2 separate regions of the Homo sapiens genome follow, and region 2 is linked to region 1. Evidence: fine-mapped expression QTL. Tissue or cell type: monocytes. Region 1 holds a variant in brackets; the other region holds the start of a gene. All regions are shown on one strand. Distances are between the middles of the regions.

What was found. PIP is the estimated chance that this variant, and not a neighbour inherited with it, causes the effect.
Region 2: THUMPD3 starts here. The variant in region 1 is fine-mapped to the expression of THUMPD3 in monocytes (CEDAR, PIP 0.91).

The regions. Positions count from the first base shown.
Region 1 is chr3:9,496,579-9,502,094 of GRCh38, forward strand. LHFPL4 (LHFPL tetraspan subfamily member 4) reads right to left here. Exons shown (of 4, transcript NM_198560.3): 4 at 1,783-5,516. Among named protein-coding and RNA genes, the nearest start is that of LHFPL4, 54 kb to the right of the region's middle. RefSeq lists an enhancer at 4,748-5,473. The variant G/C (reference allele first, on the strand shown) is at 3,499.
Region 2 is chr3:9,359,998-9,365,255 of GRCh38, forward strand. It overlaps THUMPD3 (THUMP domain 3 tRNA guanosine methyltransferase), which reads left to right and starts at 3,057. Exons shown (of 10, transcript NM_001114092.2): 1 at 3,057-3,130; 2 at 5,019-5,258. The coding sequence starts at 5,072. It also overlaps a transcript of SRGAP3 not described here. RefSeq lists enhancers at 2,787-2,996, 3,217-3,276, 3,347-3,426, 3,447-3,506.

The DNA.
Region 1 (5,516 bases):
GCAGGAGAATCACTTGAATCAGGGAGGCTGAGGTTGCAGTGAGCTGAGATTGTGCCACTGCACTGCAGCCTGGGCAACAGAGGGAGACTCCATCTCAAAATAAATAAATAAAACAAATGATGCAGTCTCAGGTATGGCTTTATAACAATGCAGAAATGGGCTAACAGTCTACCCCTAATCCAGCCCCCTAATGCTACCACCAGAGTGCTCTTTCTAAAATGCAAATTGAGTCATTTTTCCTTCTGCTTCAAATCCTTCAGTGGTTCCCCATTGCTCTTAAGTCCAAACTCCTGTCCATGGCCCCCAAGCTTTCTCATGGTCTGGCCCTCGCCTGTCTCTCTAGACTCATCTCTGACTCCTCCCTGCCTCGTACTTCACATTTCAAACTAAGTTGCTTTTCGTCCTCCATACACAGTTCTGCTGCCTACCTCAGTCTTTTTCCTCAAGCTGCCTTCTCTTTGACCTTCCTGACCCCTCCTGCCTAACTTCTCATCCTACAGCAAGACCTCCTCCTACGCTGCCCACGTCACCAAAAGCCATTTAAAGTATTCCTGCCTAGGATACCCACAATACCCTGCATGTGGCAAGTCATGCGTTATTTTCACATGTTCATCTCCCCAACCAGAATTATGCTTAAGACAGCATCTCTGTTTTGCTCATTTTTTTTCTAGCTTAAGTGCTTAGCATACACTAAGTGCTTAAAATGTGTTGGAAGAGGACTCCATTTCCAAGTCTTCAATGTAGCTACCTGGTACTGCGCACATTACAGCGTGCCAGATACCCTGCAGAGCAAAGTGCATATATTCCCTGGTATGTTGCTTACAGCTTCCCTTGGGGGAGTCACTATTGTTTTCTCTATTTATTCAATGGGGCTTTAGAGAGAGGCAAAGTGACTGGACTGAGCACTCTGGCTAGAGCAGATGAGGCTCTACTCTTTTCTGCCTGTATGGACTTGGACAAGTCGTGCCTGTGCTGTCAGAGGTGTGCAGAGATTACTGTATCCCTCTCTCTATTCACTCCTTTCTCCTTTGTATCAGAACCCTATTTTTTTTTTTTTTTGAGACGGAGTCTTGCTCTGTTGCCCAGGCTGGAGTGCAATGGCGCCATCCCACCTCCCTGCGACCTCCGCCTCCTGGGTTCAAGCAATTCTCCTGCCTCAGCCTCCTGAGTATCTGGGATTACAGGCACGCACCACCATGCCTGGCTAATTTTTGTATTTTTAGTAGAGACAGGGTTTTGCCATGTTGACCAGGCTGGTCTCAAACTCCTGACCTCAGGTGATCCACCCACCTCAGCCTCTGAAAATGCTGGGATTACAGGCATGAGCCACCTTGCCCGGCCAAGAACCCCAGTTTTATTTGGGCTGGCAATGCGCCGAGATAACAGACCACACTTTTTCAGCCTCCTTTACTGTTATGTGGCCCAAGTGACACAGTCCTATGGAATTTCCAGAAGTCTTCAAATGAAATGTGGACCAGGTGACTGGAGCTCCAGCAGCCCACGTTGGGCCATGAGGTGTTCTTGAGGATGTAGCCAGGATTGAAAATGGCAGTGCAGAAAGATAGGAGCCTGGGTTCTGGATAACACTGAGAGCCATATCAGCCGTGATCTACCCACCTCCAGGCTTTTTTTTTTTTTTTTTTTTTTTTTAATGTGATGGTAAAATAAACTATCTTGTTAAGCCACAGTAGTAGGGTTCTGTTAATACCAGACAAACCTGATCCATAGGGTTGGAATCTTACCCCTCTTGATCCCAGTGACTCAGAGAAGTGGCAGCCAGCGTGGGTGATAGAAAGTGTTTCTTTATTTGAATGTCATTCCACCTGCACTGAAGCTTAAACCCAGCAGCAGCAGAAGGGGTCAGGACCAAAATAAATGTTACCAAATTAGACAATGAACAGCGAGGACACACTCAGACAAAACTTACTAATGGGGTATAGACAACACCAAGCTATCCTAACAGCACACAGCACAGGCCCTCGGAGGCCTGCCCATCAGAGCTCTGCGGAAGGCTCCCTTGTTCCCTGTTCAGGAAACTCCAGTCCCACCCAAAGGTTAGCCGTGGGCCAGGCAGGGGCCTGCAGAAGTTTCTGGTGCTGGGAACATCCCAGCTTCTCCAAAGACAGGGTTTCCCTTTCTCTTTCTCAGTTCACACTGGAAGCTGGAGAAAGGTTATTCCCCGTGTGCCCAAGCAGGATGCTCAAAAGGCCAGGGACTCTCCCCACAGCCTTATCTAAAAGTTCTCATCATCTTGGCTATCAGGCCTGAAAAGGATCTTGATTCTTTGGTCCTCACCCCCTCAGGAAAGTTTTCCTTCATGGGTACCGGTCCCCAAAGACGAAAGTTTTCATAGCCCCGGTTCCCAGAAGGACTCAACTGACCAGACTGTGGGCCAGGGACTGAACCACCCCTAGGCTGTGGCTGCCGTGGCCTCTCCTGAGTCCCCAGATCAGGCAGAGAAAAGCGGGCAATGGCAGACCCCTGATCACAGTTAGGGGGGTCACAGTTAGGGGGGGACTTCTCTTGGGACCTGAAGCCGGAAGGCTCTAGGTTGGAGCCCAACAAGGCCCTCCTGGGGTCAGAAACAGGCACTGATCTCCTCTGCTTACCTCCTCCTGAAGGCTAAAGCCAGATCGCCCGACGAGAGCAGAGGCAAACCACAAAGCCCCCTTCCCATGATGTCTTTATTGCCCCAGGAGGGCCATCAGGGCCTCACCTGGGGCCCCCACTGGAGCACCTGCCACCTGCCCCATCCACACCTCTGCAGAACCCAGGGCCCCAGTCTATGGTTTGGTCCCCACTCTGACTTCTACCCCTTGCCTGTGTCACCCTGGGGTTCCCGCAGACTTCAGCCCACACAACTCTGCCTTCCTGACTCCAAACTCCCTGGTGCATCTCCCCCTGGCTCTGCCAAGATGGCAGCTGGCCAGGTGCGGTGGAATGGGAATGTTGCCAGGCTACCCCACCAGGGAACTAGCCTCCCTCCTCTCCACCCGGCGCTGACCCACTCCTAAGTCAGCTGGACCCACTACGTCCTCTGAAGTGGCTTCCTTCACTCCAGTTCTTCCCAAAAGGATGCGGCCTTGGCTGCCTGTGCCCCGGGCCTCCAGCCTCTGAAAGGTCAGTTCTATCCCCCGCACCAGGGCACAGGTTTGGTGGGTGTCCTTGGGGAACAAGGTGTGGCAAGGACACCTGGTGGCAGGCGTCCTTGGGGGAACAAGCTCTCCCCTCACCCAGTGCCCAGATAGCAACCCCCTCCCCACTGCCCCGCATCCTGGCTCCTTCATCCTCCTCTCCTTCCTCTGCATCCCATTCTTGCCCCCAACCCACATCTCCATTTACCTCTTCCCCGCTCCCGAGTCCTTTTTCCGCCTTTTCATCCATTTCCCCTCCCCCACCCCAAGCTCTCGGGCAGCCTCTCAGCTGGTCTCTCATCTCTCTCCACCTCTGCCCCGTCTCTCTCGATCTCTCCTCCTCGCGCTGTTTCTCTGTGCCTGT[G/C]CGTCCCCCTCGCTCCTTCTCCAATCATCTCTCATCTCCCTGTCTCTGCACCCCTCTTCTCCTCACCCCAGTGTCTTCTCCCATTCCCAGTCGCTTGCTGCGCCCCTCCCCTCACTCTCTCCTAACTCTGCTCTCCCCCTCCAACGCTGGGCTTGGTTTGCATCTTTGAGGAACTCCCTCCTACCCCAACTCCCTCCCACGGGGCTCCCGCATCCTCCCGCATTTAACTCGGACCCTCTGTCCCGCAGCGCCCCTACCCCAGGCCGACTGGACTGTCCGGGAAGGCGCCGGCGGGGAAGGGGAGCCCAGCGCTGGGACCAGAGCACTGCGGGGAGGCTTTGCCCGGGAGGAGTAAGTGGAGGAGTGAAGTCGGGACTTGGTAAGTTCCAGGTGGCAGGAACCCACTAGGTCCCAACATCTGATTCCGGCTAGGGTCCAGAGTGGGGAGACAGGCAGGGGACTTCTAGGGTCTTTCTTGGAAACCCTAACTCTCAGGTCCAAGTCCTGTGGAAATGAACACAAGGTTGGCAAACACATGGCGCTCAAGCGACCCTCTCCCCTCCGCCGAGGCCCGAGGCGGCTTCCCCTGGCATCCTGCAGGGCACCGCCCCTTCCCTGCAGGTCCAGGCCGCCAGGAGGGGGCGCTGGACGAAGCCGGTCTGCACCAGCAACTAGTGCTGAGGGAGCTGTCCAGGCCCCAGGGCAGGGAGGCTCCCCGGGAGAGATGGCTCTGCCGCCAGACCCACAGGGGAATGACGGGTGTTCAAAAAATACCAGGAGTCTCCCTCACCTGCTCCCTGCCAAGGGGAAGGGAGACGCCCCCACAGTGGGTGGAGGGGGGAGAAACTTCTCACCTGTCCCCCAACACACACACACACACACACGCTCACACGCGCACACACACGCACACACATTTCACCCACATACACATACACTCATGCCTCGGCTCCAAGCACTGCCCATAGGTGCAGACCCTGGGCATATCGCAAGGCGAGAGGTGGGCCAGGAGGAGGAAGAGGCTGGGACAGGGTAACAAGGCTTAGGAAGGGGGACAGGGGTACCCTGTTCAGAGATGACCTGCAAGTTCAAGTTATGCAGAAAAGTATCAAAGAGACAAGACAGTCTCTGCCCTTGGTAGACGCCTGGGGTATGGAGGGCATGAAAAGGGGCAGAAGGGGTAATGCATCCCCCAACTCCCCACCTCTGGGGTCCCCTCCACACCCCCAACCCTGACAACAGGGCCAAGAAGTCTGTGCTGTACAAAACAGGCCAGGGTCAAGGGTCCAGTCATTGGTGAGACATCCCAGCAGAGAGGAGGCCTGGGCAAAAGAGGCCAAGGTCAAGGGCTCAGTCATCAGTGAGATGTTCCAGCAGAGAGGAAGAGGAGGCCAGGCCAGCCCGGGCTGAGCAGCTTCTAAGCTCCAACTGCCGAGGCCACGTACCCCCTCCCGCTACCTCCAGAGCCTGAAAGTCTTTTCTGACTCTGGGCTGATCAGGGCCCCGGTCTGCAGCTGACAGCAGGGCCCTGTGCATCCCTCGGTGCAGCTCTCCCTCAGGGTGAGCTGGGAGCAGGCCGGAATGGAGCAGAGGAGGTCCCAGGGGAGACTGGTGGCACCTGGAGCTTTGTGGCAGATGTGGTGGAACCAACATCAGCCAAAAAAGAAAAAAAAAAAAAGTAGGAAAGAGTCCAGCCCACCCTGGAGCAGTATCTAGAATAAATTTCTTGAAGAGGCAGGGACCAGAAGAGGTGCGGATACAGCCAGGCGGCAGCCCTCCAGACTGAGGGGGCCTGGGGAGCTGGAACTACAGCTCCGCTCTCCCTGGGGATCTGCAGGGACCTCCAGGCCAGTCTAGAGAGGAGAGGAGAAGCCCAAGGGCCTACGCAGATGCAGGCTCCCTTAGGTCAAATTGAGGGAGGAGCAAGAATTAGACCCTCCCAAGGTTTGGAGGGCCTCTCCTCTCCCCCAGGCCACATCCAGGCTTTCCTCTCCTCAAAGCCTGGAGCTTGCAGGGTAGTC
Region 2 (5,258 bases), 140 kb before region 1:
TAGTTCACTACAGACTCGAACTCCTGGGCCCAAGCAATCCTCCCATGTCAGCCTCTTCAGTGTCTGGTACCACAGATGAGTGCCACCACACCCAGCTACTTTCTAAATTTTTTGTAGAGACAGGTCTCCCTATGTTGTCCAGGCTGGTCTCAAACTCTTGGGCTCAAGCAATCTTCCCGCCTCTGCCTCCCAAATTGCTAGAATTACAGGCATGAGCCAGCATGCCCAGTTTGTGTACAAGTTTTTGTTTGAACACTTGTTTTCAGTCTTCTTGGGTATAAAGCTATTACAGATGTTCCTTGACTTACAATGGGATTATATCCCAATAAACCCACCATACGCAGAAAATAGTGTAAGTTAAAAATGCATTATAACCCATCAGCCCATTGTAAAGTCAAAAAATTGTAAGTCAAACCATCCTAAGTCAGAAAGCATCTGTAGTGGAATTGGTGAGTAATGTGTTCTATGTTTAATTTTTTGACGAAAGGCTAAATTGTTTTCCAATGGACGTGTATTAGTCCATTTTCACACTGCTGATAGAGACATACCCAAGACTGGGCAATTTGCAAAAGAAAGAGGTTTAATGGATTTACAGTTCCATGTGGCTACGGAGGCCTCACAATCATGGTGGAAGGTGAAAGGCACTTCTTACATGGCGGCAGCAAGAAAGAGAATGGGAGAAGCGGAAGTGGAAACCTCTTATCAAACCATCAGATCTTGTGAGACTTATTCACTACCACAAGAACAGTATGCAGGGAATCACCCCCATGATTCAATCATCTCCCACTGGGTCCCTCCCACAATATATGGGAATTATGGGAGTATACTTCAAGATGAAATTTAGGTGGAGTCACAGAGCTAAAACATACCAGGGCATATATCATTTTGTATTTTCATCAGCAATGTATAAGTGCTCCATTGCCCCACATACTCATTAGAACTTGGAACTGTTGATTTTTTGTTTTTTACTTTTAGTCATTTTGATGAGTATCCCATTGTGATTAATTTGCAATTCCCTAATGACTAATGATGTTCAGCATCTTTTCATGTGCTTATTGGCCATTTGTCCATCTTTTGGAGAAATATCTATTCAAGCCCTTTACATATTTTTCATTTTATTTTTGAGACAAGGTCTCACTCTGTCACCTGGGCTGAAGTGCAGTGATGTGATCATAACTCATTACAGCCTCAACCTCCCCAGCTCAAGCTATTCTCCTGTCTCAGCCTCCCGAGTAGCTGGGACTACAGGTGAGTGTCACCATGCCTAGCTAATTTTTGTCATTTTTTTGTAGCGACAGAGTTTTGCCATGTTGCCAGAGCTAGTCTCAAACTCTGAGCTCAAGCGAGCCACTCACCTCAGCCTCCCAAAGCGCTGGGACTACAGGCATGAACCACCACTCCCAGCCCCTTTGCACATTTATAAATTGTGTTCTTTTTGGTTTTGTTTTGTTTTAAATTCGGTTTATCTTTTTGTTGTTGGGTTCCTTTCACAATAAGTTAACTTTTGTCAACTGAAAAATAAAAATAAAATTCTATGCCCCCCAACTGACTGAACAGGCCCTCTCTTGGCCAAGGAGACCCTAGAAAAAACTTGGAAGCTGAGTTCCTACTCATGACAGGATGGGAAGTCGGACACACCTCTTTATAACCCCTCCCTCTATAATCGCCATTAGATTTTCTTTCCTAAGGGTTAAACAGAAACCAGCCCTTTTGAAAGACTCACTCCACCAGCCTGATGCTGACCCTCCCATTTGCAGTTTCAATAGAACAACCGACTAGCATTCCTTCCTGATAAGAGATCACCCACCATCCAGGGAGTGGTTCTGGCCAGTCGACAGAGGACGTGCAGTGAGGGTTTTCACATCCCCTGCTTCACCTTTTGAAGTCAAGCGGTAGAAAACTCTACCCTTGGATCATGCTAAGGCCACCATTTTTTAAACATGGGATCCACAGAGAGGCATGAAGCTCAACTGCACATGCACAAATTGCTCCTTTCATAAATATTCGTGACCCCTCTTACAGTTTATTTAACATGTATATTTGGCCACTGTGTTTAGCATAAATCCCTGTCTTATTCTTCCAACCCTGGAAGTGCCTGTTTTTGGCTTCTGACTGGAAGCTAGGCTTCCCAGTCTGTCAAAATGGCTACCATGCAGGTTCAACTCTTTTTTTTTTTTTTTTTTTTTTTTTTTGAGATGATGTCTTGCTCCCAGACTGGAGTGCAGTGGCACAATCTTGGCTCTCTGCAACCTCTGCCTCCTGGGTAAGCAACTCTTCTGCTTCATCTTCCCAAGTAGCTAGGACTACAGGTGCAGGCCACCACATCCAGCTAACTTTTGTATTTTTAGTAGAGATGGAGTTTCACCATGTTGGCCAGCCTGGCCTCAAACTCCTGACCTCAAGTGATCCACCCGCCTCAGCCTCCCAAAGTGCTGGGATTACAGGCATGAGCCACTGTGCCCGGCCAGGTTCAACCCTTTATGAGAAATAAAGTTCATCTGATTGGGCACAGTGGCTCATGCCTGTAATCCCAGCACTTTAGGAGGGCTAGACAGAAGAATCACTTGAACCCAGATGTTCGAGACCAGCTTAGGCAACATAGTGAGCCCCACTATTTCTATTTTTTTTAAACTAAAGAAAAATATGAAGTAAACAGTGCTAAAATAGTGATGGCAATACAGAAATCAGGAACTAGTGGCATGACATTTTGAGAAAGATATTTAAATAAGCTGGAGAGACTCGGTGTCTCCAGCTTTAAAACAGAAATCAGTCTCTGCCACTTCATAGGTGCTAGAACAAAAGAGACTTGTTCCAAATGAGATGACGCATGTGAAGCGCTTACCCAGTGCTCGGCAAGGGGAAGCACTCTCTAAACGTTAGCAAATACCATGGTAGGACACAAGGCCCCTGACTCTCCGCTTTCAGCTTACTGAAGATCCTCAAAACCAACAGCACACAGCTTCCAGCGCATGCTCCTTTCCCCAAGACCTTGTGGGGGAACCCGCCGCCAGCGCGGAGCCACCGTGACTCGTAGCCTGACTTCCGTTTCCGGGGGCGGCTTCCGGCGGCGTGACCTGACCGCAAGAGGCCAATGGAGTGTGGGAGCTGAAAGGGTCTTCGCTGGCGGCCGGTAACTGGCGGCGGTTGGGAACGGCCGAGTGTGGCTCTTCTGGTGTTTCAGCTTGGGGAGAGAGGGGTGGCCTTCCTCTTGCAGTTGAGGCCGGCGCCGAGCCGGACTTCAGGCGGATCTCGTGGCGGAGCCCATCTTGCTCCCTCTCCCAGGCCTTTACCCGCTCCCTAGGATTCCCGGGCCCTGTAGGTGGGAGTTGGGAGACGTGAGTTCTCTTTCATTCTGCGCCTCTCATTGGCTCTCTGACCTTGTGCGGAACGCGTCCTTTAGCTGACCTCAGCTGCATTTTTTAGAAGATGGAGATTGTATTCACAGTGACTGTCAGCTTTTTAACGGCGGGAACTGACGTAGTGTTAAACACTGTCGTGTATCGCTGGCACAGCACAAGGACATTATAGGTATTCTGTACTCAATTAAGTTATTTTGAGTCACAGACCTTTTGAAAATCTCGTGTAAGCTATGGCCCCTCCACCTCTCTAATACTTCCCCCGGCCCCCACCCCAAGCACACACAAAAGCTTATGCATAGGAAATTTGTTTTACTATTTCGGATTACTTCCAAGATCTCTCTCCTGATGCCCATCTATGGATCCCAGAGTCTGGCAAGTAGTAGGCGTTTGAACATTTGTAATCATTAGATAGTAAGTATTCAGTTAACCATTTTTATTTTTAATTTTTTCTTTTTTTTTTTTTTTTTTTTTGAGACAGGGCCTCACTGTGTCACCCAGGCTGGAGTGCAGTCCTCCCACCTCAGCCTCCCAAGTAGCTGGACTCCAGGCGCCCACCACCACGCCCAGCTATTTTTTGTGTTTTTGGTAGAGATGAGATTTTGCCATCTTACGCAGATTGGTCTCGAACTCTTGGCCTCAAGCAATCTACTCACCTCAGCTCCCTAAAGTGCTGGGATTACAGGCATGAGCCAGTGTGCCCAGCCCAGTTAATCATTTTTAAATGCATGAAATGCTATTTCACAGGAGGGAAGAAGATAGATAGCCTATTAATAAGTTTTAATTATTGGCCTAACCAGGTACTACTCTCACTTGTCTCCTAACGACTCTAGGAAAGAGGTATTACTAATTACTTAATTACATTTGAAGGTTTGGGAGAATTAATTTGCCATAAGTCATTCAACCTATGATGGTGGAGGCAAGAATTCAAACCTGTATCTATCTGAAACTCCAAAAGCCCCATATTATTATTATTATTATTATTTATTTTATTTATTTATTTATTTTTTTGAGACAGAGTCTTGTTCTGTTACCCCAGCCGGAGTGCAGTGGCATGATCTCAGCTCACTGCAATCTCCACCTCCCGGATTCAAGCAATTCTCCTCCCTCAGCCTCCCAAGTAGCTGGGATTACAGGCTCCCACCACCACACCTGGCTAATGTTTGTATTTTTAGTAGAGACGGGGTTTCACCATGTGGGCCAGGCTGGTCTTGAACTCCTGACCTCAGGCAATCTGCCCGCCTCGGCCTCCCAAAGTGCTGGGATTACAGGTGTGAGCCACCACGCCCAGCCAAGCCCTATATTCTTAACTAACCATGTTCTTAACATCTAGATGCAGAAATGGATTTGAATGTGATCTGCAGTTTCTGTCGTAGTTATGAAATGGCTTTTGTCAACATGGGTTACCCCAAAGCAAACATTGCATGCTATGGAAATACTTCTTGTCTCTTTTTCTCCCATGGTATCTGTATTGCTTCTTTAATAATAACATCATGTTTTACAGCCTGCACTCTGTGCCCATGTTTATTCAACCCTTTTTACTTTGGTGACTGTTTATCAGATGTGTTGCCTTGTTCTTCCTGCCCTCCAGAGCCCATGTTTTTAATTATAACTGAAATATGAGATGATAATATTTGGGCTTTATTTCTTTTTCTTTTAAAGGACAGTACTGCTTTTAAAGAGACAGTGTTAGGGATCTTGGAAGCACAGCCAACATGTGTGACATTGAAGAAGCCACTAACCAACTCCTAGATGTGAACCTTCATGAGAACCAGAAGTCTGTACAAGTGACAGAAAGTGACCTCGGAAGTGAATCTGAGCTTCTAGTCACTATTGGAGCCACTGTACCTACTGGCTTTGAGCAAACAGCTGCAGATGAAGTCAGAGAGAAACTTGGGTCAT